Linked DNA regions of Homo sapiens: all the other regions are linked to region 5. The links come from fine-mapping of genetic effects on gene expression. A gene starts in region 5. Each other region holds a variant in brackets. All regions are shown on one strand. Distances are between the middles of the regions.

What was found. PIP is the estimated chance that this variant, and not a neighbour inherited with it, causes the effect.
Region 1: its variant is fine-mapped to the expression of SLC5A4 in atrial appendage (GTEx, PIP 0.96).
Region 2: its variant is fine-mapped to the expression of SLC5A4 in lung (GTEx, PIP above 0.99).
Region 3: its variant is fine-mapped to the expression of SLC5A4 in iPS cells (HipSci, PIP 0.91).
Region 4: its variant is fine-mapped to the expression of SLC5A4 in visceral fat (GTEx, PIP 0.96).
Region 6: its variant is fine-mapped to the expression of SLC5A4 in subcutaneous fat (FUSION, PIP 0.95).

What each region holds. Positions count from the first base shown.
Region 1 is chr22:32,312,513-32,316,512 of GRCh38, forward strand. It overlaps a transcript of SLC5A4 not described here. Among named protein-coding and RNA genes, the nearest start is that of RFPL3, 43 kb to the right of the region's middle. The variant C/T (reference allele first, on the strand shown) is at 2,351.
Region 2 is chr22:32,428,330-32,433,470 of GRCh38, forward strand. BPIFC (BPI fold containing family C) reads right to left here. Exons shown (of 17, transcript NM_174932.3): 12 at 4,044-4,214; 13 at 3,018-3,085. Among named protein-coding and RNA genes, the nearest start is that of RTCB, 19 kb to the left of the region's middle. The variant G/A (reference allele first, on the strand shown) is at 2,406.
Region 3 is chr22:32,318,159-32,322,158 of GRCh38, forward strand. LOC107985561 (a long non-coding RNA gene) reads right to left here. Exons shown (of 2, transcript XR_001755500.2): 2 at 1-4,000. It also overlaps a transcript of SLC5A4 not described here. Among named protein-coding and RNA genes, the nearest start is that of RFPL3, 38 kb to the right of the region's middle. The variant T/C (reference allele first, on the strand shown) is at 1,840.
Region 4 is chr22:32,351,028-32,356,162 of GRCh38, forward strand. It overlaps a transcript of SLC5A4 not described here and a transcript of RFPL3 not described here. Among named protein-coding and RNA genes, the nearest start is that of RFPL3, 4.3 kb to the right of the region's middle. The variant C/T (reference allele first, on the strand shown) is at 1,576.
Region 5 is chr22:32,253,138-32,257,137 of GRCh38, forward strand. SLC5A4 (solute carrier family 5 member 4) reads right to left here and starts at 2,210. Exons shown (of 15, transcript NM_014227.3): 1 at 2,058-2,210; 2 at 1,005-1,076. The coding sequence starts at 2,192. The region is part of intron 2 of SLC5A4-AS1 (SLC5A4 antisense RNA 1); the gene reads left to right.
Region 6 is chr22:32,331,198-32,335,197 of GRCh38, forward strand. All of the region lies in intron 1 of LOC107985561 (a long non-coding RNA gene), which reads right to left. It also overlaps a transcript of SLC5A4 not described here. Among named protein-coding and RNA genes, the nearest start is that of RFPL3, 25 kb to the right of the region's middle. The variant T/C (reference allele first, on the strand shown) is at 1,685.

The sequences.
Region 1 (4,000 bases), 59 kb after region 5:
CCAGAGTTGCTTTGTCTTGGTCATCCTGAGGCCACAATGAGTCACCTCTCAGAAGCCACCAGCCCAAAACAGGACTATCGCTTGTGGACAGGTGGCTCAGAATCCCCTCCCCTGCACCCCCAGCCCCTACCCCTGAGTTTGCTCGTAATCTTAGAAGTCCGCAGAAGGGGGCTTTGGGCACAGGCAGCATTCCCTTCTCTACCACCTCGGCTGTCCCTGGCATCTCTGTAGAAGTTGTCCTTCTCGGAGGCTGCACTGGGTATTTCAGATCTCATCTCCCCCATCCTGAGGCACAGCAAAAGGGTTTTCTGGAGGAAATACAAGGAAAAAAAATATCACATGGTGTCTCCTCAATGGGGACTCACTGGGGACATTTCTCTCTGGCCTCAGTGCCAGAAGAATCCAGGTTTCCTCTGAACACATGGGTTTTGTCTTCTGAACGTTGTGAACCATGTGACTTTAAGACTGGAAGCGAGACAAAAATGTCGCTATCATTATAGCTCCATATAGTACTAGAGCTCTGGCTCATGCAATAAGGCAAGAAAAAAAAGCATAGACTAGGACTGGAATAGAAGAACCAAAATTACAGTTAATTGTGGATAACTTACATAGAAAATTTAATAGAATCAACAGGTTAATTAGTAGAATGGAGAGTGCATACATAGAGGTATAATAGTCAACCTGTAAGACATCAGATCAATTTATAAAATGCAACAGTGTGCATTGACCTCAGCAGTTACTAGGGTAATTATATGTCATGGCTTGGGACAGTCTCAGTTGACACTTGTTGTTCTGACATAATTTTTAATGTTGTTCCCCTTTTACCCTCAAAAGTATTCTGATTTGGATGATAAATTATACTGTCACCCTTGCTATAACAAACTAAATATTAAACACAGATACAGATACCATTCATACTGACAAAAACGATCCTGTATTTTGGAATGACACTAAGATATGACCATGACCATGTCATACAAAGCTATAGAGAAGATACCAAGATGCTCCTGGAATAGGGAAGAGCCAGGAGAGCAGTGGAACAAGATCTACAGTGTGGAAACAGGTCTGCTGGGCACTTATAGCTTTGAATGGCAGAGTCAAGTTGCAAACAAGACAATGAGGAAAAGAAATACAAACTCCATCTGTGGCAGGCAGCATGAACCCCACTGCCCTGTGTCTATTACAAGAGCAATTGCCCAGCCACAACTACTTACCTTCCCAGACTCCCTTGCAAGCAGGGGTGGTCACATGACCCAGTCTGGCCAATGTCATGTAAGTGGGAGTCTATTGGGAAGGGGACATAAATCCAGGGGAAGATGAACTATCTTGCATGCATGAGAATGAAGGATGCTCACTAACACAGGTGGAGTAGAAGGCAGGGAGAAACTGGGTTCTGGTGGCAGCCCTGGACTGCCCCCTCCACACCACTGCAGTCAAATTTCCTTTACTTGCATAAATTGCAACTGGTGACAGTTCTTAACTGATAAACCATCTTCAACCAAACTACATGTTTTTTGGGCAAATGGAGAAGTCAAGGGAGTGGCTCCGACAAAGCCAGCAAAGCCCACCTCCCCAGAGTGAGAGATACGCCAAGAAGGAGAACCTACTCTCCACTCTTTGCATCAGTGGGAATGTGTACAGGGGCTAAGGGTGAGAGATTCCGTGGGGCCATCTCCTCAGCTTCACAGAACAAAGCCAGGTACTCTCCATCACCGACTTTTTTTTCTCCATAGCACACACCTCTATCCAGCATACCACCTATTGTACTTACTTGAATAATTTATTGTTTGTCTTCCCCACATAGAAAGTTAGCTACAAGAGGGTTAAGGTGATTGTGTGTTTTACACATTGCTGCATTGCCAGGGCCTAGGACAGTAACTGGCATACTGTAGGGGCTTAATAATGTTTATCAAATAAATGAATGAACCAAGAATTTAAAGCCCAATGAACCATCTTTCAAATATAAAGTCAACAGAAAAACATGTTGAACATATTTTTGAATTATAGTTCCCATGACCCCTTCTTAAAAAAATTAAGGACACCCTTAGGCAAATCAAGAATGATTCAGAAAAGTTTAATGTAAAAGGATGGGCAGATGATTTTTTTAAAAGTTCTGTGGATAGATGGCAGTGATGGCTGCTGTATTAATCCATTTTCATGCTGCTGATAAAGACATACCCAAGCAATTTACAAAAGAAAGAGGCTTAACTGGACTTACAGTTCCACATGGCTGGGGAGGCCTCACAATCATGGTGAAAGGCAAGGAGGAGCAAGTCACGTCTTATGTGGATGGTGGCAGGCAAAGGGACAGAGAGAGTGAGCGAGCTTGTGCAGGAAAATTCCCATCAGA[C/T]CTCATGAAATTTATTCACTATCATGAAAACAGCATGGGAAAGACTTGCCCCCATGATTCAATTACCTCCCACTGGGTTCCTCCCATGACACATGGGAATTGTGGGAGTTACAATTCAAGATGAGCTTTGGGTACAGCCACAGCCAAACCATATCAGTTGCCCTACAGTGAGAAGGTACTTAATGCCCCTGAACTGTATACTTAAAAATGGTTAAAATGGTTATATGTTATGTGCATTCTACCACAATTCATAAAAAGGATGAGCAGAAGCATAACAAATGCAAATGAAGAGAAATCAGGGGTCAAGTTGTAAATGGAGCACTGCCAAGAGTGCCAGCAATGAGCACAGAATTTGTGTAACTGCAGGACTATTAAAGCCAATCTAAAGATTATGACCATCACAGAGAAGAATGAAACAAAACAGAACTGGCATAAATAATAAAAAGTAGGAGGGGTGGAGGTGAGAAGGAGAGAGGTAATACAAGTAAACTATGTCATATTCATATATAGTTGGAGGTCTAAATTATTGCTTAGAAGTCTAAGTAAAATTAGAGGCATCAAGGTAAACAAAAAATAATCAACTAAAATAACTTGATGGAAGGGAGACAAGAAGAGGGAAAGTAGAAATATTCTAATTTTGATATTGTTCACAGTAGGGAGAAAATAAGCGCTGTCTAGAGAAATAAAAGGATTAAAGATATCATGTCATATTATAATTATGAAGATAACCATGGGATCAAAAACGCAGCTTTCCAAATTATCAGAAGACATACACACAGAAAATAAAACAAAGACAACAGAGACCGTATGGTGAAAACTGACAACCCCCACAAAACTATAAAAGCAGAAAGCCTATCAAACAATGATGACAGAACTAAGACCAAATGCATCTGCCATATCTGTAAATGTTAGTGAGCCATACACACTTGCTTAAAAAAAAAAAAAAAAAAAAAGAGACTGGATCACAAACAAGGGCACTGAAGGTAGAATGATTCAGCAAGGTTTCATAGAAAAGGATGGGCAGGGCCGGGCATGGTGGCTCACACCTGTAATCTCAGCACTTTGGGAGGCCAAGGCAGGTAGATCACGAGGTCAGGAGTTCAAGACCAGCCTGGCCAACATGATGAAACCCCGTCTCTACTAAAAATACAAATAAATTAGCCAGGCATGGTGGTGGGTGCATGCAGTCCCAGCTACTCGGGAGGCTGAAGCAGGAGAATCGCTTGAACCCAGGAGACTCTGTCTGAAAAAAAAAAAAAAAAAGGGCAGATGATTTTTATAAAGTTCTGCAGGTGGATGATGGTGATGGTTGCACTACAGTGAGAAGTACTTAATACCCCTGAACTGTATACTTTAAAAATAGTTAAAATGGTAAATGTTATGTGCATTTTACCATAATTTTAAAAAAAGGATGAGCAGAAGCATAACAAACAAATGCAAATGAAGCTAAATCAGGGGTCATAATCTTAATATCAGACAAAGCTGAAGTCAGGGCAAAACATATTGAATGAGAAAAAAGAAGGGCACTGTGTGAGGGTGAAGGATGAGAGTCACCATGAAGATCTAACAGTAATGAATGTTCATGTACCAAATAGCATAGCCTCAATATTCATAGAGCAAGACTGGAAATTTAGGGAGAAAAAGCAGAGT
Region 2 (5,141 bases), 180 kb after region 5:
GAGATCATAGCTCACTGCAGCCTCGACTTCTTGGGCTCAGGCAATCCATTCACCTTGGCCTCCCAAAGTGCTGGGATTACAGGTGTGTGCCACCCTGCCCGGCCTCTCATGGGCTTTTAAAGTATTGTGGCTCTAGGCACTGTGCCTATTGTGCCTAAAGGAAGCTAATGAAGAAGTCAGGACTGCTTTGAAGGGCTTGGTAAATGCGAGTAAACCTTCGTAAAACCTTTTCTTTCTGGGAAACCATACTACTTTAAACAAACAAACAAACAAACAAAACATTGTATTTCTGGGCATGGTGGCTCACGCCTGTAATCCCAGCACTTTGGGAGGCCGAGGCCCCAGATCGCCTGAGGTCAGGAGTTTGAGACCAGCCTGGCCAACATGGTGAAACCCCATCTCTACTAAAAAATACAAAAATTAGCCAGGTGTGGTGGCAGGCGCCTGTAATCCCAGCTACTTGGCGGGCTGAGGCAGGAGAATCACTTGAACCCGGGAGGCGGAGGTTGTAGTGAGCCGAGATCGCACCCCTGCACTCCAGCCTGGGTGACAGAGTAACACTCCATCTCAAAAAAAAACAAAATTATATTCCCTTTGTTGGAAAAACAATATACTTACAAAGAAAATTTTAATGAAAAAAGAACCCTCTCATAATCCCATATCCTAATACAACTCTTCATTTTCAGTTTTGTGATTCACTTCCTTGTCCAGATGCAAAGCTATTTTCCTCTTCCGGATGCAAAGCTATTTTCCTCTTCCAGATGCAAAGCTATTTTATACAATTAACAGCTGTTGTGTTTGTGCAGTTTTGTATTCTGTTTTTTCCATTTAACATAATTTTCTTGAAAACATTTTCCATGTTTCTTTTCTTTTTTTCTTTTTCTTTTTTTTTTCTGAGATGGAGTCTCGCTCTGTCCCCCAGGCTGGAGTGCAGTGGCGCCATCTCGGCTCACTGCAAGCTCGGCCTCCCGAGTTCACGCCATTGTCTTGCCTCAGCCTCCCAAGCAGCTGGAGCTACAGGCGCCCGCCACCACGCCCAGCTAATTTTTTGCATTTTCAGTAGAGACGGGGTTTCACCATGTTAGCCAGGATGGTCTCGATCTCCTGACCTCATGATCCGCTCGCCTCAGCCTCCCAAAGTGCTGGGATTACAGGCGTGAGCCATGGCAACTGGCCTTTGTTTTTTTTTTTTTTTTTTTTTTTTTTTCATGAAGTCCCGCTCTGTTGCCCAGGCTGGAGTGCAGTGGCGCAATCTCTGCTCACCACAACCTCCACCTCCCGGCTTCAAGCAATTCTTCTGTCTCAGGCTCCCGAGTAGCTGGGATTACAGGCACATGCTACCATGCCCGGCTAATTTTTGTATTTTTAGTAGAGATGGGGTTTCACTATGTTGGCCAGGCTGGTCTCGAACTCCTGACCTCATCATCTACTTGTCTCGTCCTCCCAAAGTGCTGGGATTACAGGTGTGAGCGACCGCGCCTGGCCATTTTCCATGTTTCCACAATAGACTTCATAACTACCACGTTGACTTGTGATTGATTTACTCCCCCTCTGCTGGTTTCTCAGATCTTTTCTGACTCTGCTTACGTCTGTTTCATTGCTTCCTTTTCTTCCATACATTTAGTCTATGCCGTCTAATCTTTCTGTAAATTCTCCCCCCAGGTAGTCTGATGGATGACTTCAACTACCAGCTTTATAGGGCTGAGGAAAATGGGCTTTGCAGACGGTTCTGCCGAATGGCACTTAGTGGTCAATGATCTGCGTCTGTGGCCTGCACATGGCCTTTCACCGTGTGTCACATGCATTTGACAGTCAGACAGGCCATGGGGAAGATCTTGTTAACTTCTCTGTTCTAGTAATGGGATCAGATGGTCAGAGTCTGAAGGTACCTTAGGCATGATCCAGTTCAACTTCCTTATTTGCAGATAAGGAAACTGAGGCTCAAGGAGGTTAACAGACTGGATCACAGTCATAGAGCCTGTGAATAAGGACTGGAAACTTGGTTCCTTAACTCCCAAAGCTTTATGCTCTTTCCTCACTAGCATGCTCTATGAATTTGATAAAGAAGAACTGAAGTTTATATTGCTGTACCATTAGAATGTACACTTCTATTACAGAATTATATATATATTCTTTGTATGTTTATATAAAATAAATAAAAATAAAATATAGGAAATAAATATAATATATAAAACATAATATATTTTATAAAATGTTTTATATAAATATAAAAATATATTTATTACATATGTAATATTTTATGTATTTAATTTGTATATGTATATAAAATATATAATATAAAATATGTGAGAGAGATATATTTTTTTGAGAGACAAGGTCTCATTCTATTGCTCAGGTTGGAGTGCAGTGGCACGATCATAGCTCACTGTAATCTCAAACTCCTG[G/A]GCTCAAGCAATTCTTCCCTCTCAGCTTCCTGAGTAGTTGGGATTACAGCGGTGCACACCACGCCTAGCTAATTTTTAAAAAAGCTTTTGTAGAGATGAGGTCTCACTTTGTTGCCCAGGCTGGGCTCAAACTCCTGGCCTCAAGCAATCCTCCCACTCCCAAATTGCTGGGATTACAGGTGAGAGCCTGTAAGATGGCACCTGACCATATTACAAAATTATATTTATAATTATTTTGTTCCCTATTTTATTTTTATGTTACTATAATGGAAAAAAGAAAAGCTTGACAGTACCATTTTTAGTAAAGTACATACTTTAAAGTTATCTGGCCCATTACAGGAGAGGTGCTTAACTGACTCATGTTCACACAATGGTTAACGTCCCTTTTTTTTTTTTTTTGAGACAGAGTCTCACTGTCACCCAGGCTGGAGTGCAGTGGTGTGATCTTGGCTTACTGCAACCTCTGCCTCCCGGGTTCAAGCGATTCTCCTGCCTCAGCCTCCTGAGTAGCTGAGATTACAGATCACTTGTTTTCTTAATGGTCACTTTGTCTCTGATCAGTTGACTCACTTATTACTAAGGTGCCCCAACAGTCAAATTGATTGATCTTACCTGTTCAGAGACAAGGAGCAGACCAGTCTTTGTCCCAAAATAACCAGGCCAACACTGGTACTAGCAACCTATAGACAATAAAAGCATTTATTATTAAGACGAGTGAGTGTCAATTTTGGCCATCAGTATAATTTCCAATAGTTGAAACATTATAAGCCCAACATTCCCCCTTAGTGTAAAGACATTGGAAGTCTAAAAGACATTGGAAATACAGACCTCTGAAAATCCTGTCTTGTAGTTAGGGAAGCTACCTGCAAAGACTTTTTGTTTGATGATCTCCTTTGAATTTTTTTTTTCTCCTAATCGCTCTTCTTTATGTATGTGTGTGTATGTGCCTATGTGCGTATGACATTTTTGTTAGGTTTATTATGTCCTTCTATCAGATTGCATTTGGCCTTCATTTGCTCAAGTAAAAATGAATTCTACCTTGATTGACTTATTTAGATTAAAAAAAAAGAGAGAATTCCAGCTGTCCATGTAACTGAGGTAGGTGGTGGGAAGAGCGTGCATGAAGTAGAGACTGGAGAGATTTTACAATGTATGAGAGTGTGAGTGCTTACCTCCCATCCTGCCACACATACCCTTCCCTCAACTCTGACCTCACTGAGACAGGGTCTTACCCTGTTGCCCAGACTGGAGTGCAGTGGTGCAATCATAGCTCACTGTAGCCTCAAACTCCTGGGTTCAGAGCAACACTTCCACCTCAGCCTCCTGAGTAGCTAGGATGACAGGTGCACAACACCACCACACCTGGCTAATTCAAACAATTTTTTTTTTTTTGGAGAGATGAGGTCTTGCTATGTTACCCAGGCTGGTCTCTAACTCCTGGCCTCAAGCAATCTTCCTGCTTCAGCCTCCCAAGACACTGGAATTATAGGCATGAGCCATCACGTCCAGCCTCCATCCTCACTCTTAATCAATGTAGCATCCCCACCCTCTTCAAACGTTTAAAAGCTGCTGGCCAACAGTCCACAGCAGGAGCAGGATTGGCATCTACAGGCTGCTCCACTGTCTCCCCAGACTTACGAAGTCCATGGAAACGATGGTTTCAACTGTGGAGTTCTTGGGTTGGGTGAGCATCATGATGGAGGCAGGGATGTCCAGGGTGAAATTGCCTGGTTGTAGATTGATTATGGGAGGCTCTGTGGCCATGATCCTCACCATGAAGGGCTGGGACAAGATGTAGATCTCTGCAATCTGCCCACATTCCGAGAAAGAAATAAAGATTGTGAGGCGTGAGTTGGTGAAGGGAGATCACAAGGTTAGGATGGCCTGTGGTGACTAAATCTTACATTGTGCAGTTAGAATAGAAAAAAAGCTCTTTAATAATCATAATTACACACAAAAATCAAACGATGATAACAGTTGGCAGTTACTGAACATAATACTTGATACTACCCACTGTGCCAGGGGCTTTATATATTATCACATTTAATCTTCAGAAAATCCCTGTGAGGCAGATTCTATCAGCATCCCTGTTTCATAGTGGAGAACGTGAGTCTTACAGAGGTTAAATGATGTTCTCAAGGTTCTAGGGGAATAAGTGGTAGAATTGGGATTCAAATCTAGGTCTGGGCTGGGCACAGTGGCTCATGCCTGTAATCCTAGCACGTTGGGAGGCTGAGATCGGTGGATCACTTGAAGCCAGGAGTTTGAAACCAGCCAGGGCAACATGGAGAAATCCTGCCTCTACAAAAAATAGAAAAATTAGCTGGGCATAGTGGCTTGTGCCTGTAGTCCCAGCTACTTGGGAGGCTGAGTTGGGAGGATCACTTGAGCAGGGGAGGCGGATATTGCAGTGAGCCAAGATCGTGCCACTGCACTCCAGCCTGGATGACAGAGCGAGACCCTGTCTCAAAAAACAAACAAACAAAAACAAATCTAGGTCTATCTGACTCAAGATCCTTGCTCTAGAACCAGGATGCTACATGAACATCTCTTTGTCCTCAAGGGCAATCCCTAGCCCGTAGGTTCATTATGTTCAATACTTAGTGTGCTACGAAGGCACAATATTAACAGTTGCTTTTTACTACAGTTACAAGTGTGGGCACTAATCCTTCATTTAAGAATTGAATCCTTCATTTCCACTAATAAATCCTTTATTTAAACTAATTATTTCAAGTA
Region 3 (4,000 bases), 65 kb after region 5:
TGACCTCCTCTTCACTCTTTCTACTCACTCATGGACCTCATCTCTTCCCAAGGATTTAAACAGCATATGTTGATTTTTTTTTTTTTGAGATGGAGCTGGAATTTCACTCTGTCACCCAGGCTGGAGATACGCTGATGACTTTTGAGCCTCAAACTCTCATCTAAACTCCATTCTGATGGCCAACGTGTCTACTCGATGTCACCAAATTGATATTTAATAGACACCTCAAACTTAATATATCCCAAACGAAAATCCCAACCTTCCTCCCCCATCTAGCTTTTCCCACAATTTTTCTGACCTCAGGAAATACAACTCCATCCTGTCAGTTGCTCTCCTCAGAGGCCTGGAGTCATCTTTGACCCCTCTTTTCCTCTCACACTCCACATCCAACCCAGGAGCAAATCCCATTGGCCCTTCCTTTGGAATCTCAACAAGCCTTACACTTCCTGCTGCCTCCACCACTCCTACTGTGGTCCACACTAGCAGGATTCTTGCAGTGGGTGTCTGTGCTGGTCAGCCCCTTCCATCTGCTCTCAACACAGCAGCCAGAGAAGCCCTGTGAAAACCTAAGTCCAATTATGCCACCCCTTTCCTCAAAACCCTCAGTGGCTCCCAGATTCACTAAGAGTAGAAGCTAAAGCCCTTCCCACCCCATCACCTCCCTGTCCTATTCCTCACTCTTTTCCTTTTCATTCTCTCCACTCCAACGGTAATGGTTTGTTTAGTGTCAATTTGACTGGGCCACAGGGTGCCCTGATATTTGGTGGGATATTTTTCTGGGTGTGTTGTGAAGGTGTTTCATGATGAGAGGAACATGTGACCTGGCAGATGGAGGAAAACAGTGTCCTCCCCTGTGCAGGTGGCCTCATCCAACCTGCTGGAGACCTAAACAGAACCAACAAGTAAGGGGGAATTCACACTCTCTGCCTGCCTTTAAGTGGGGACATCGTTCTTCTCCTCCCTTTAGACTCAGGGTGGGACTGAAATTCACACCATTGGCTCTCCTGGCTCTCAGGCCCTTGACTCATAGTGGAACTCATGCCATCAGCTCTCCTGGGTCTCAGGTCCTCGACTCACACTGGAACTCACACCATGGGTTCTCCTGGGACTCAGGCCCTCGACCACACTGGAACTCACACCATCAGCTCTCTTGGGTCTCAGGCCATCGACTCACACTGGAACTCACACCATCAGCTCTTCTGGGTCTCAGACCCTCAAATCAAACAGGAACTCACACCATCAGCTCTCCTGGGTCTCAGACCTTCAAATCAAACTGGAACTCTCACCATTGGCTCTCCTGGGTCTCAGGCCCTCGACTGACACTGGAACTCACATCATCGGCTCTTTTGGGTCCCCAGCTTGCTAACTGCAGACCTTTGGATTCCTCAACCTGCATAGCTGCAGGAGCCAATTACCTACAGTGTGTGTCTTCATATGTGTCTATATGCGATTGGTTCTGTTCCTCTGGAGCACACTGACTAATACACCATCTGTACCAGCATGCTCCTGTCTCTTCTCCCAGATAAACCCAAGGCTGAATCCCTGATCTCCTTTAAGTCACCTTTTTAGTGAGCCCTTGGCCACATGTTTAAAATTATCCTTTACCTCAAATGCATTATCGCTGTCTAAAAGTCCATATATTTCACATAAACATTTTAAAAACTGTCTGCAGTCTCCATAAAAGCAGGCTTTTTGCTGCTTTTGGCCCATGACTATATCCCCAGGGCCAATAACGATGCCCAGCACAGGGTCAGCACTCAATTAAGATGAACTGAACAAACAGAAGAACAAAAGCGACTGCCTGCTCAACTCTACAGAAACCAGGAAGCCTCCAAGAAA[T/C]GGATCAATTTCCAAGAAAAGAGAAATTACCCAAAGGATCCGGGAAGGGAGAATCTAAACAGACCAGTTGCCAAGAAGAAAGAGAGAAACTGTCAAACAGCAAATCCAAACTCTAAAATAAGAGAAATGCAAATTAAAGCCATAATGAGAGAGGATTTCAGAGCGCAGACAAAAGGGAGCATCCGCATTCCTTCACTTGCCACCCTGACACTGATCAAAAGGGCTGAGCACCCAATGCATTTGCTGGTTTGGGTTTCTGCTTCACTGCTGGTGGGGGGGATGCTGGGGTCATTTCTTTGGAAGGCAATTTGACACATGCCTACGGTACAGATGCCCACATCCTCTGACCCAGCAGTCTCACGTAACGATTATCCTACAGACATGCTCACAAGGGCAACATAGGTACAAGCACATTCATCACACAAAGGTGGGTCACAGCAGAAGATTAGGATCAGTGAAGTCTCCATCAGCAGGATGCCAGGTCAAAAACAACAGCTCCTGCACAATGGAGAGCCATGCAGAGACCAGGCAGGCTTGGGCAGCTGTCCTCAGCCACCTCCCATGCTCTGCTTTCCTTTCCTGGGTGTTAGTCATTGAGATTCATGATTTGTGGCATTAATGCCACTTACACGCTGAGCCCTCTGCCCTGAACCTTAGTCTTGAATTCCCACCCTTCCTCCCCTGGGCAATTTCTGTACTTTCCGCTCAATTTTTCTGTAAACCTAAAACTGCTTTAAAAAAAATCTATTCATTACCTAGATAACAAAATTCGTAAGACAGTGAGATGTCACTTTAAATCCATCAAATCGGCCAAACTTAGGAGATCAGATGATTTGAAAGGTAAGTGAACACCCGCGAAGGGGACTCACCACCATGCTCTGTGGACGATCCGGCAACCTCTCTCTGTGTACTTCCCAAAGAAGCCCGGGAGCTGGTCTTCAGGGGCAACCCGTCACCTTCCTAGGGAACTGCATTAGCATGAGCTGCTTCTTTTTAAGAAACGTTTAAGGCCGGGCACGGTGGCTCACGCCTATAATCCCAGCATTTTGGGAGGCCGAGGCAGGCGGATCACCAGGTCAGGAGTTCAAAACCAGCCTGACCAACATGTTGAAACCCCATCTCTACTAAAAACACAAAAATAAGCTGGGCATGGTGGCGTGCACCTGTAATCCCAGCTACTCAGGAGGCTGAGGCAGAAGAACTGCTTGAACCCAGGAGGCGGAGGTTGCGGTGAGCTGAGATCGTGCCATTGCACTCCAGCCTGGGCAATAAGAATGAAACTCCGTCTCTAAATAAATACAAAACTTAGCCAGGCATGGTGATAGGCACCTGTAGTCCCAGCTACTTGGGAGGCTGAGGCAGGAAAATCACTCGAATCCAGGGGGTGGAGGTTGCAGTGAGCTGAGATCGCGCCACTGCACTCCAGCCTGGATGGCAGAGCGAGACTCTGTCTCAAAAACGAACACAAATCTTTTAAGTTCAGGGGTACACGTGCAGGACGTGCAGGTTTGTGACACAGCTAAATGTGTGTCATGGGGGTTTGTTGTACAGATTATTTCATCACCCAGACATGAAACCTAGTACCCATTAGTTATTTTTTCCTGGTCCTCCCCCTCCTCCCACCTTCCGCCCTTCAGTGGGCCCCAGTGTGTGTCCTTCCCCTCTATGTATCCATGTGTTCTCATCATTTAGCTCCCGCTTATAAGTGAGAGCATGTGGTATTGGGTTTTCTGTTCCTGTGTTAGTTTGCTAAGAATAATGGCTTCCAGCTCCATGCATGTCCCTGCAAAGGACATGATCTTGTTCTTTTTTATGGCTGCATAGTATTCCATGGTGCCTATACAGTCTTCCATACAGTTCTCAGAAGTGAGGGTGCAAGAGCGCCTATGGCAGAATGCATAGGTCTTGCACATAAAACGTTGGGTCAAAGGTGAGAAATACTATACATGACAAGTGAAAACACTTCCATGTTCCCAGCATTGTGCATAATTTGGGCATCACACTCAATTAAGATGAAAGAGTGGGGTGGACGGAGTAGGCTTGGAGGGTGGGAGAATGGGCAGGTACAGTAAGGGACCCATCACAGCCACTGATGTTGGAGCTAGGGACCAGGAGGTGTGACCAGCTCAACATTCTAGACCTAAGGGTTGGAAACCAGAAT
Region 4 (5,135 bases), 98 kb after region 5:
AAACATTATAATTCCACATGATCCTCCCCTTCCTTTTCCTGTTGCAACGATGTGATGAACCAAATTTGCTTATGCAGATGACAATACTCTCAGAAAATGGTGGCAGAGAAATAAAATGAAGGGAATATGGTTCTCTTAATGATCTCATACACTGGAACTTATTACCTCCATGCCTCTTGCCTATCTCCAGACTAATATGGGAGAGAGAGAAAATGGCTGTTTGCAACCAATATTTTATTTGACGCTTCATTTTTTGATTCCCCAAATAACTACTTACAACGAATTAACAGGATATGAAAGCACAGCTACTCAAGAATCTAAATAATTATCCAACTGATTTTTTCCTCATCTCTAAAACAATAACGGACCGATCATTTTTAAAATACAACACACTGGGCCGGCGAGGTGGCTCACGCCTGTAATCCAAGCACTCTGAGAGGCTGAGATGGGAAGATCACAAGGTCAGGAGTTCAATACCAGCCTGGCCAACATGGCGAAACCCCATCTCTACTAAAAATACAAAAATTAGCCGGGCACAGCAGTATTCGCTTGTAATCCCAGCTACTCAAGAGGCTGAGGCAGGAGAATTGCTTGAACCTGGGAGACAGAGGTTGCAATGAGCAGAGATCACCACTGCACTCCAGCCTGGGCAACAGAGCAAGATTCCGTCGGGGCGGGGGTGGGGGGCGTGGGGGGAGGGTGGGGGCGGTGGGGGGAGGGCGGGGGGGGGGTGGGCGGGTGGAATACAATGACAAGTCGTCTATTTTTAACTCAGTTTTGGACTGTTGTTTGTTAAGGCCATTGCTTGTGATAAAGAAAACAAAGGGAGGAGGAGGAGAAACAAGAAAGGACACAAGAAATAGAAGCAGCAGCATAAGAAAATGAACAGGAACAAGAAAATGATGATAAGCAGAAGAAAAACCAGGCTGGAAAAAAAGAAAAAGAACAGGTAAGAGAATCAAGGAGACCTATTATACATTTTGTCCCCTTCCTGATTCATGAAATTTAAAAAAGTCCAAGAAAATGTGGCACATATGCACCATGGAATACTACACAGCCATAAAAAATGATGAGTTCATGGCCTTTGTAAGGACATGGATGAAGCTGGAAACCATCATTCTCAGCAAACTATCACAAGGACAAAAAACCAAACATCGTTATGTTCTCACTCATAGGTGGGAATTGAACAATGAGAACACTTGTACACAGGAAGGGGGACATCACATACCAGGGCCTGTTGTGGGATGGGGGGAGGGGGGAGGGATAGCATTAGGAGATATACCTAATGCAAATGACGAGTTAATGGGTGCAGCACACCAACATGGCACATGGATACATATGTAACAAACATGCACGTTGTGCTCATGTACCCCAGAAATTAAAAAAAAAAAAAGTCCAAGACTACCCTGACAAAAAACCAAGCAAAATGATACACAAATAGTTACCCCCCAAACTTCTGTTAATAACATAATGGTGCCACTCACACCTGACTCAGGTGCCAGCAGGAGGAGGGCGCCCTCCAGATTCTGCAGGAGATGCGGGGAAGACTCCTCCTTCCCCTGGCTGCACCTCCAC[C/T]GCTGTCACAGAGGCCCACAGCTTCCTACCCACCCCAGGCCAGGCAGGGCTGCCCCCCAACGCTCCGACCTGCCTTCCCGGCCCCCAAACTTGCTGCTGCTGCTGCCACAACTAGCACCGATGCTAATACAACTACTACTGCTGTCACCCTCAACGCACAGGCCCACCCTACAAGGCTCCTAACACCTGACCACTGCACTGCCTGTGCCCTGGCGGCAGCCAGCCGCCATCCTACCGCTCTGGTGCTCTTCAGTTTTCATTGCCGCCCTCCTACCACTCCAGCGCTGAGTCTTTAGTCTCCATGGCCGCCACCAACCACAGCGAGGCGAGCGGTGGTGCCACAAGCTCCAGCCTCCAGCAGGCGGCTCCTCCTCCTGGCATGAAACAACTGGGCAGGCAAAGCCAAGAAAGCCTAGAACAGGATGCAGAGAGTGGTAGCGTTAGAGCCTCACCTTGGCATGCTGGCCACTGGATGGCAGAGGCCGGTTTCAGCGAAGGCACTCACGCCCACCCTCCAAAGTCCAGCCTCTCCTTTTGGCCCAAGTTGGCCAGGAACTAGGGCCTGGAGTGGGGACTGGAGACACCACAGTGCCCGGGCTTCCTACTCTACTAGAACCGCTGGGCCCACCCTGGCTGCGTTCCTCGGGAAGCAGGAGCAGCAAAAACTGAACCCCAGCCAGCCCTCCCAACCCTAGTGCTGGTTCCCGTTCCTGACGCCTCCACCCACGGGGCCCTATCACCCCGTAGTGTCAGCTACTGCGTGCCCGGGGGTCCCAGGCAGTTTCCGCAACACATAGAGGGCGCGGGCCTGGGAACCACGGCTGGTCTAGGTGACGGATTGTGCTCAGGATCCCCGCGGAAACGCTGTGCATCCGCCGCGCTCCAGCAGGAGGAGATGGCCCTCTAGAGTCTGGAGTCCGGGGAGACGAGGACCGCTCCTCTGACCACCCGTCACTGACACCACCAGCACCAGGGGGGCAGCGCAGCCCCCAACAGCACCCCTAACCCGCCGCCGGCAGTGTAGCCCCCAGATAGCGCCTCCAACACCTCACCCCCAACCACCGGCAGTGTAGCATCCAATGGCGACCCCAACCTGCCCTTGCTTCGGACACTGCAGCACCCAATGGCGCCCAGAACCCGCCCCCTGCCGCGGGCAGTGCAGCCCGGGATAGCGCCCCCAATCCGCTCCCTGCCGTACACAGTGTAGCCACGAATAGTGCCCCCAACCAGACCCCTGCTGGGGGCAGTAATGCCCTGATATGGCACCCAAACCGCCCCCCAACTGCGGGAAGTGCAACCCCGGATAGTGCCCCAACCTGCTCCCCACTGGGAGCAGCAACCCAGGGAGACGCCCCAACTCACTCCCTGCCTCCGGCAGTACAGCCACAGATAGCGCACCCAACCCACCCCCTGCGCGGGCAAGGTAGCCCCCGATAGCGCACCCAACCCGCCCCGCCGGAACCAATGTGGCCCCAGGTAGCACACCCACCAGCTCCCTGGCACGCAGTACAGACCTCTGATAGCACCCAACCCGCCCCCTCCCAAAACGGGCAGTGGATACGTCCCTCAATAGCGCCCCCAACCAGCCTCCCACCCCCTCTACACGGGCAGTCTGGCCCCCAGTAGCACTCCCAATAAATCCTGCTATCTCTGTCTCAGTGTAGGCCCCAGAAAGCGCCCTCAACACCCCCCTCCCTGCTGCCAACAGTGTAGCACCCTGTAATGAGCCTAACCCGTCCCCCACCACAGCACTGCAGCCCCAGATAGTGCTGCCAACCTGCTCCCTGCTGTGGGCAGTGCAGCTATGGATAATGCCCCCAGCCAGCTTCTAGACGCAGGCAATGATGCCCTGGATATAACACGTCCCGCCCACCGCAGGCAGAGTAGCACCCGATAGCGCCCCCAACCCGTGCCTGACAAGGGCAATGCAACACCCGATAGTTCTTCCAACTCGCCCGCCGGCCACGGCCACTGCATCCCCAGATAGTGCCCCCAGAACTCCCCACTGCCGCTAGCAGTACAGCTTGGGATAGTGCTCCAACCCACCCCCAGCCACGGGCAGCGCACACCCGATAGCACCCCCAACCCACTCCCCTCTGTGGGCAGTGAGGCCCCAGATACCACATCCAACCAGCCTCCTAACACGGGCAGTAACGCCCTGGATAGGGCCTCCAACCCACCCCACCACGCCACGCCACAGGCAGTACGGCCTGGGATGGCGAACTTTTCCCACCACCATTTTACCATTCTGGCTGCGCTCTAGTCTCCCTGGCCCGCACCAACGGCAGCAGCGAGGTGAGCCACGGCAGGCTCCAGCCTCCACTGTGCTAATGAAGTTGCTCCTCCTCCTTTTCCTCTAAGCTTCCAGACTCCAGTGTGCTCAGGAAGTGACTCGTTTTCTTTTTCCTCTAAGCCAGTACTAACCAGCTACACAAGCTGACGCAGGAGAGCTTGGAATGACAAAACTCCCCCCACTTGGCATCATTTATATATGAGAATTTATGCAAATGAAGTTCCTGGGCTACATGTTCTGATTGGATGAGGAAAACCTCTAGGCCTACTCTGATTGGACTTTGTTATCATGTTCTGATTGGTTGTCCTAAGACTTGCTCTCATCCAATCAGAACATGCAAATAAAGCCCAATCAGAGTAGATCTAGAGGTTTTTCTTCTCATCCAATCAGAATATGTAGTCCAAGAACCTCATTTGCATAACCTCGGTAAGGGGAAGTCTCAGTTCCAGGCTCTTCTAGGCTATGTTCTCTGTCTCCACACCTTCCTCTCAGACAGCAGCTGGAGCCCCAGAACCTGGGAGCCTCACAGAGAAAGTCCTGATGTGGGACCTGGTTTTCCACCCGAGACCCAGGATCCAATAAAGAAGTGTTTCCATAAATGATGCATCCTCCAAAGAAGGCCAGTGACTTTCTGTGCCAAGTACCTGACAGAATTGCCATTTCCTAGAGCTGCCAGGCAGCCCTAGGTGCACAGGTCACCTGTGCATGTGTCAGAGACCAAATCCCATCAATATTGAGGCCTTGGTTAAGACAGGTACTTGCTTTTAGTCGTGAAAAGATGCCTGGCTTTGGCAGGAGAATCGCTTGAACCTGGGAGGCAGAGGTTGCAGTGAGCCAAGATTGTGCCACTACACTCCAGCCTGGTGACACAGCGAGACTTTGTCTCAAAAAAAAAAAAAAAAAAAGAAAGAAAAGAAAAGATGGCTGGCTTCAACACTGAGAAAACCAACTCTCCTTGAGCAAATGCTTTGCATATTCTCATAGAAATAAGGGAACACCTATTACCCTCCTTGCACTGCTTCCTGCACAGCTGGGATACTACCTTTCACAAGCATCCTGAGCCACCTGCTGGCCTTTTGTGTGTGTTTCCTTCCTGGCTTCCTCCCATTTTTTTTTCCATCTCTGAACCTGCTGTAAGGTGAAGAATTGAGGCGGGCCCCAAATGTAAGACCTCATGAATTTGACGATGCAACAGTGTCCTGGACAGCCTGGCTCTCAGGGCTGGGGAGCTGGGCAGAGAGAAAAGAGGGCATTCCAGGGGCCAGGG
Region 5 (4,000 bases):
GCCCATCTCCACTTCCCCTCATACCATTTAGAAAATGAGTCAGATCTGTGAAGGAAGCATTTGCTAAGCACCCACTGTATAATGTGATGCTGGGCTGACACTCTCCAGGTGCAGAGGGGAAGATACAGCCTCTGCTGCAGTGGGACCCTGGCTGAGGGGGTCACACATCAAAACCCCACAAGAACACCCACTGGGCAAGAATCAAGAGGCATCAGCATTAGCACCATCACAGGGAACACAACCAATAACTGCATGGGACATAGGGACCCATGGAGAGAGCCGGGAGGCTCCTCAGATGAGAAAGGGCTGAGGTGAGGCATTGAAAGAGGACAGCAGACAAGGGGAGGCCAATCCTAACAAGAGGGCCAGCATCAGCTCAGGACTGGCAACAAAGCAGGAATGCGCAGAGCTTGTAAGAAGCCAGGAGAAGACTCTTGATAAGGAGCAGAAGAAAAGAATATAAGGTGGGGCTGAGCTGGGGTCCTTCAGTGCCAGACTGAACCGGCTGTCATAATAGGTGACATATTGTAATGTCCTGGAATTACAGAGAGGAGCCATGAAGTCGGGGATTTAGGAAAGGAGCCCCAGCGAGTAGGCAACCAATGTACATCAGAAATGATCAACATTCCCAATGTTGTCTACATTCACTTTTTTTTTTTTGAGATGGAGTTTCATTCTTGTTGCCCAGGCTGGAGTGCAGTGGTGTGATCTAGGCTCACTGCAACCTCTGCCTCCCAGGTTCAAGTGATTATCCTGCCTCAGCCTCCTGAGTAGCTGGGATTACAGGCATACACACCACCACGTCCAGCTAATTTTTGTATTTTTAGTAGAGATGGTTTCACCATGTTAGTCAGGCTGGTCTCGAACTCCTGACCTCAGATGATCTGCCAGCCTTGGCCTCCCAAAGTGCTGGGATTACAGGCGTGAGACACCGCACCCAGCCTACATTCAGTTTTAAGCACACACACAGGAAATTTATCTCCAGAAAACTTCGATCCACTTACCGGCCACCAGGCCATATCACGACCAGCGAGGAAGAAGCCTCCTATAGTACCTCGGTTGGTCTTCAGCATCGCCTGAGCAGAAGGGAAGACAGGTGAGGGTCAAGCCCCAGCAAGTGCACCCAGACACCCCAGAGGCTCTGGCCAGGGTGCTGAGAGGGGTGACTTCAGCACTCCTACAGAGAGAAACATTTCGCTGGAAAGTGTTCTATAGCATCAAATTTTAAAGGACTTCAAAAACAGTCGCTTTGTAAAAACCCAGGGCTGGAAGAACTTAAAAAAATCATAATCCTTAACTTCTATCTTAACTGCTCTGATTATTCTCACTTATGAAAACCATGTGAGGTATCATTGAGCCATGCTTGCAATAAAATTTGCAGTCTCGGCCGGGCACGGTGGCTCACGCCTGTAATTCCAGCACTTTGGAGGGCCGAGGCGGGTGGATCACAAGGTCAAGAGATCGAGACCATCCTGGCCAACATGGTGAAACCCCGTCTCTACTAAAAATACAAAAAGTTAGCCGGGCGTGGTGGCGCATGCCTGTAGTCCCAGCTACTTGGGAGGCTGAGGCAGGAGAATGGCGTGAACCCAGGAGGCGGAGCTTGCAGTGAGCCAAGCAAGCGCCACTGCACTCCAGCCTGGACGACAGAGCAAGACTCCGTCTCAAAAAAAAAAAAAATTTGCAGTCTCAAATTTATTAAAATAAAAAAATTCAACATAAATGAAGAGTCCAACTCACTAAATCAGAAAGTGAGCAAACAACAAAAGAAAGCGAAAGAAATGCGATAATAAAAATACACTCTTTGTCCATTATGCCAGGTGTTGGGGATGCATAGTAAATCTGAAGGTCCCGGTGCTGGCTGTGTGCACACGATGGGGTTATTAGGAGAATACATTAGTTCATTGTAAGCGTTATTTATGCAACACACAAGAAAATGATTCTGATAACACAATGACATTTGTGAAAAGCTTTGTCACAACCACACCCCTTCCCCCCTTAAGATACCCCCTCCTAAACCTTGTGCCCACCCTAAAAGCCACTGGGATTCCACCTACCCACAGCCCAACAGCCATCACCACCAGAAAATAGATGACAATGACTGAGATGTCAGCAGCATTTCGGATGTGGTCAGACAATGGAGGTGGCTCTGGGGTCTCAGCTATGGTGCTGGGGCTAACCGTACTGGCCATGGCTGCAGGCAGTGCTATACCCATTCCACGCATGAGCCATCTTTATATAAGTTCTGGGTTAATGATCAGCCTCAGGCAGGTGGGGCGAGATATCAGAGCCAGCTCCTGGATATGGAGACCTTTAAACCTCTTCTCCAAAGCTGTGGCACCCCAGCCCTCCACCAGTGAGTGCTAGCCTAGGTAGAGTGTGAGAATGAGGGATGCAGGGCCAGAAATGAGGGGAGAATTTGAGGTGGAGCATGGGGCGTTCTCTGAGTGCAAAGACAGGGTCTTTAAAGAGATTTGCCCAGGTGGAGGGGGGATTTGAGAGAAATGAAGACAGACAAGGAGGGGAGAAGGACAGACTAGAAGGTACCAGAAACCAGCCAGGAGGGACCGAATGCAATGGTCCTTCAGAGAACAGATACAGTTTCTGACCAATGAGCTATATCCCTTGACAGTGAAGTGAATTATGCCTTTCGTGGATTCCAAAGTCCCACATTTCTCTGAAGTGGGTTTCATGTGCCACAAAAAGACATTGGTGGCCTGTATAGGAAAGGAAGTGGCTCTTCAAGCACCATATGTGGTGAGTTGAGGGCAGAGCTGTGGAGAGCGCTGGGTCAGAGGGTTGTACAAAGAGTGAATCAACCTGGAAGCATGTGATGGGGATCATGAGGACTCAGGAAACAAGACTCCTGGACTACAGCCAAGAAGAAGTTAGAAGTAAAGCCTATGCGGTGGCTGACACCTGTAATCCCAGCACTTTGGGAGGCCAAGGAGAGAGCATCACTTGAGGCCAGGAGTTCAAGACCAGCTTGGGCAACATAGGGAGTCTTTGTCTCTATAAAAATTAGCTGAGTGTGGTGATGCACACGTATGGTCCCAGCTACTTGGGAGGCTGAAGAGGGAGGATCACCTGTGACTGGGAGGTCAAAGCTATAGTGAGCCATGATCACGCCGCTGCACTCTAGCCTGGGCAACTGAGCAAGATCCTGTCTCAAAAACAAACAAAAAAAACAACAACAAAAAAACAAAACCAAAAACACACATGAAAAAACGGAAAGCCCAGAAATTCTTCTTTTATACTTCATTTTTTATTGTGGCAAAGCATACATAGCATAAAATTTACCATTTTAATCCCTTTTAAGTGTACAATTCATTGGCATTAAGTACATTTACAGTGTTATGCAGCCATTACCACTATCCATTTCCAGAACTTTTTCATCATCTCCAAACAGAAGTATGTACCCACTAAAAACTAACTCCCCATCCCTCCCTCTCTCCAGGCCCTGGTAACCTCTGTTATTCTTTCTTACTATATAAATTTGCCTATTCTAGGTACCTCATACAAATGAAATCATACAATATTTTCCTCTTTGGTTTATTTCACTTAGTATGACATTTTCAAGGTTCATCCATATTGTAGCATGTATCAGAATTTCCTTCCTTTTTAAGGCTGAATAATATTCCAATACTCATATATACCACATTTTGTTTATCCATTCAACTGTTGATGGGCATTCAGGTTCTTTCTATACTTGGCTATTATAAATAATGCTGCTGAGAACACTGGTGTGCAAGGATCTGTTTGAATCCCTACTTTCAATTCTTTTGAGTCTATATGTAGAAGTGGAATTGCATGTGATAATTCTGTGTTTAACTTTTTGTAGAACTGCCAAACTGTTGTTCACAGCAGCTGCACTATTTTACATTCTTTCCACAGTGCATAGGAGAGTTAATTTCTCCATATCCTCTTCAATACTTGTCATTTATGTTTTAATTATAGACAGGCTAGTAGGTATCAAGTGGGTATCACAATATAGTTTTGA
Region 6 (4,000 bases), 78 kb after region 5:
GTGTGTGTATTGGGGGCTGTGTGTTGGGGGCTGTGTGTGTGTTGGGGCACCAAGGCACATTGTAGGTGCTCTGGGAGAGCCTCTCCCTGGCTGTTTGACTTTGGACACGTGCTTTGGCCTCTCTGAGCCTGAGTTTCCAGCAAAATGGCAAGAAAAACGCCGCTGGCGAGATGGCGGCACGGGGGAAATGGCCGTGCTCTGCAAACTCCCTCGCGCCCCAGTCAGCTCCCCTGGTCTCCAGGAAATACCAAAATAAAGATCCTGCTTGAGGACAATGAGAATTATTTTGTGCTTTATAGGGCGCCGCATAATCTAAATAATGACACACGGAAACTTTGTTTCCTTCAGGAAGAAGCTGGCGGGCAACCCAGCTATAGTAAAAGGCAAGCGGTGGGGTGGAGATGACAAAGCTATTTGGTGCCAGCTATGCCCAGCGGCTTCTGGCAGACAGGACAGTGCCTGCTGTGTTGCTGGAGCCCACGGATTGTACCTGGGATGGGGACGTGGGCATGGGAAGCAAGGGACATCGCAGGAGCGACAGGCGGAGGGCAGGACACGCAGCCCACATCCGAGGCCAGATCCCATGCCCCTCGGCTGCCCTGATCCTCTCGCGGCTTCCAGACCCCATTCGCCCTGGGGTTCCTCCTGCCACGGGTGGGGGCTGCTCCTCCCCAGGCCCATTGCAGTGGTCTCTCGGGGCATCTCAAACTCAAGACACTCCATGCTGCTGAGCCCAAAGCCACATCTGCCCCAAGGTCCCCATCTTGGAAAATCTCCCAGGCTGCTCAGCCCAGGGGCCCAGACATCCTCCTTGGACCCCCACCTCCTTCTCAGCCCCCACCCCAGGCCCTGGCCAATCCCATGGACTCCACTCCCTGGTGCCGGCCCCTCCCCACCACCACCCTCGGCCAAGCCGCAGACATGGCTGCAGCTCGTGAGACAGTGGCAGCCTCTCCGGTGGACTCCCAGCTCCCTTCCCAAAGGCAAGTGCCTCCTGTCACTCTCCTCGAGGGCACCCTTGTCCCTGGACTAAGAAGCCCACATCTCACCATGGCCCTGCACAGTCAGACCTACTTGCATCTGCCACCCGTCCCCTCCTGCACTTCCTCCCCCACACTCATGCCACCTGACTGCCCTTCAGATGGATGGATGTGCGGCTGTCTCTGCCTCAGTGCCTCTGCACATGCTATTTCCAGTGCCTGGACCACTTACTTCCCACTTCCTCCCCTGGTCTCTTCCAACTCCGACAGGCTCATTCCTTTCCATCCTACAGATCCCAGCTGCCCCGAGAGGCAGGGCCAGGCCATGGAAAGCTGTGGATGCCCAGCTGAGGGCCTGTCCTTATCCTGCGGGCCTTCTGGGAGTCTCTGAGGGGCTGGGAGCCTCTGCAGAGACAGGGCCGGAGGCTGCCCTGGCGTTGGGAGTGGGGTCAACAGGGAGCTGTGTCAGTTTTAGAGGCTTCCATTATTCACACCTCACTTGTAGCCTGCCTTCCTGTCGCTTTACCCTCCTGACGTTCAGACACTTCTCGGGGAACTTAGGGACTTTATACATCCCCATGGTAAAGGTTAATTTTTAATACTGCTTTGGTAAATATTTGATGCCACTGCTTTAACGGGAGGATGCATTAGACATTAAATACCACAAAGTGCTCTGAGATGCTGTCCTTTTCATCGGCAGCCTC[T/C]GTCCGTAACTCCTGCCTCCCACTCTGCGAAAATAAAGACTCTTTCTCCTTTGCCTCCTGCTATGAATTTTTCAAAGCGTTTTTCAAATCCATTCTTACCCCTGATCAGCATCTCCATTAGCCAGATAGAAAGTCAAAGAGGTTTTAAGCTGAGAGATGGCTTAGAAGCCTCAGTCCCTTCCCTCATCTTACACAAGGGGAAAGTGAGGCCGAGGAGGGACGTGGCCTGCCCGAGGTTAAACAGTGAGTCTGTGGGTGTAGGAGTGGAATGAGGTGCCGGGACTCCCAGCCCAGGACTCTGCTCTAGCACTGGCACCCCCCCCCCAGAAGACTCAGACCAGTCCTGCCCTCACCCAGTCCAGTGGAAACAGGCCACGGGGCTCTCTGACTGTGCTGGAAGTGGGCAGCAGGCAGAGGGGTCTTTTAGAGGATGGGGAGAGGCCTCCGGAAGGAGCATGACCTCAGTGAGGTTTTGAGGAATGAGTAGGAGCTCGCCAAGGGGCCAGAGTGGGGAAACCTGTGAGGTGAATGGGTGTAGGTAAGCACCTCAGGGCAGGGATGGGGACTGATCCACTCTGTATCCCCAGTCCTGGCCTGGGGCCCAGACTTAGCCCATGCTTTTTAATCCTTATGAAATGAATGTGTCCTTTACCTCCAAGGCTGTGTGCACTGTGGCCCTGATCATCGGCTCCTGGTCCCACAGGCCCTGGTGCCCTTGCATCTCCGTGCTTCCTTCAGCCCGGGCTCTGACCTGACCAGCTTCCATGCATTCTGCATTCCTGGCCCGCCCCTGATGCTGGGGCTGCTTCCCCAACGTCCTTTCTACTGCCCAGGACAGTAAACATCCACAATACACACACGTACACCATGCCACACAGACACCCACAATACACATAAACACACACACCATGCCACACAGATCCACACAATATCACACACACACACCACATAGACCCTCACAATATACACACACACACCACAGACACCCACAATACACATACACACACACCCCATGCCACACACCATGCTGCATACCCACAACATACACATAGACACACGTCACACACCATGCTGCAGACCCACAATATACACACACACCATGCAACACAGACACACTACACACACTACACCATGCCAGATACACCATGCACACACACACACCATGCCACAGACTCACACAATATACACACACTATGCCAGACAACACACACACACACATCACATAGACCCACACAATATACATATACACACCATGCCAGACAACACACACACCCCATGCCACACAGACATCACACAATGCACACACCATGCCACACAGACTCCTGCTCACCTGTGACCTGTCCTAGCCCCTCAGGACCCACCTCTGCCCTCTCCACCTCTCCCCTGGTGCTGGCGTCCCATGGTGGTAACAATGCACGACCCTGTGCCCAGCCCCGCCCCTCCAGCACTGTCCTTCCTGGTCAGCAGCAACACCACGTGTCTCTTGGTTCAGACCCTCGAGTTGTCCTCGTCCTCAGTGTGCCCCTCCAACATCCAATTCCTCTGTGGCTCCTGCCTGCACTACCTCCAAAATACTGCCTTGTGTCCCCCCACTGCCTGGGGCACAGTGATGGCCTCCCCCCGGGCCTCCCTGCCTCCATTCCTGCTGGTTGGCTGCTGTGAGCTGTGTGGTAGTGGCCTCTCACCAAAACCCCCACCTGACCAAGTCCCCGTGCTTCGCTGGCTCCATGTTTCCCTTAAACGAACGGAACCACTCTCCCATCTCGACAACCCTGCAGACTGGAGTCCCGAAGCTCCCTCCCTCTTGGATGCTGTCAACGGTGAGATGTCCCAGGGATTGAATCATGGCTTTGGGGAGGACGTCAGCGGCACTCCAGTAAGCGTACACACTGATCGGGGGACACATCTGGGCTTGAGGCCCTGAAGGGTGACAAGGACATGTCCCTTAGAAACAAGTGACAACAGTATTGGTCAGAGTCCAGGCAGGGACACAGCAGCCATGGCTTCATGGAATAGGGCATTTATGATAAGGACTTGAGTTTCCACACTTGTAGGAGGAGCTGGGCAGTGAAGGTCCAGAAGGGACCGTGGAGGCTCAGAGAAGGGACGCTCCGCAGTGCTGGGCAGGGAGAGAGCGGGGCCAGCTCGCATGGAGGCTGAAGCCAGGCCCATCCTGCCTCCAAGAGATCACAGGGAGGGTCACAGGGTCTGCCAGCCTAGGGTAGGTGGTCGGGAAGGAGAGCCAGACACAGATGGAAAACCCAAGGACACTGGGAGCCCTGGGACACCCCTGCAGCTGTGCTTCTCTGGCTCTGC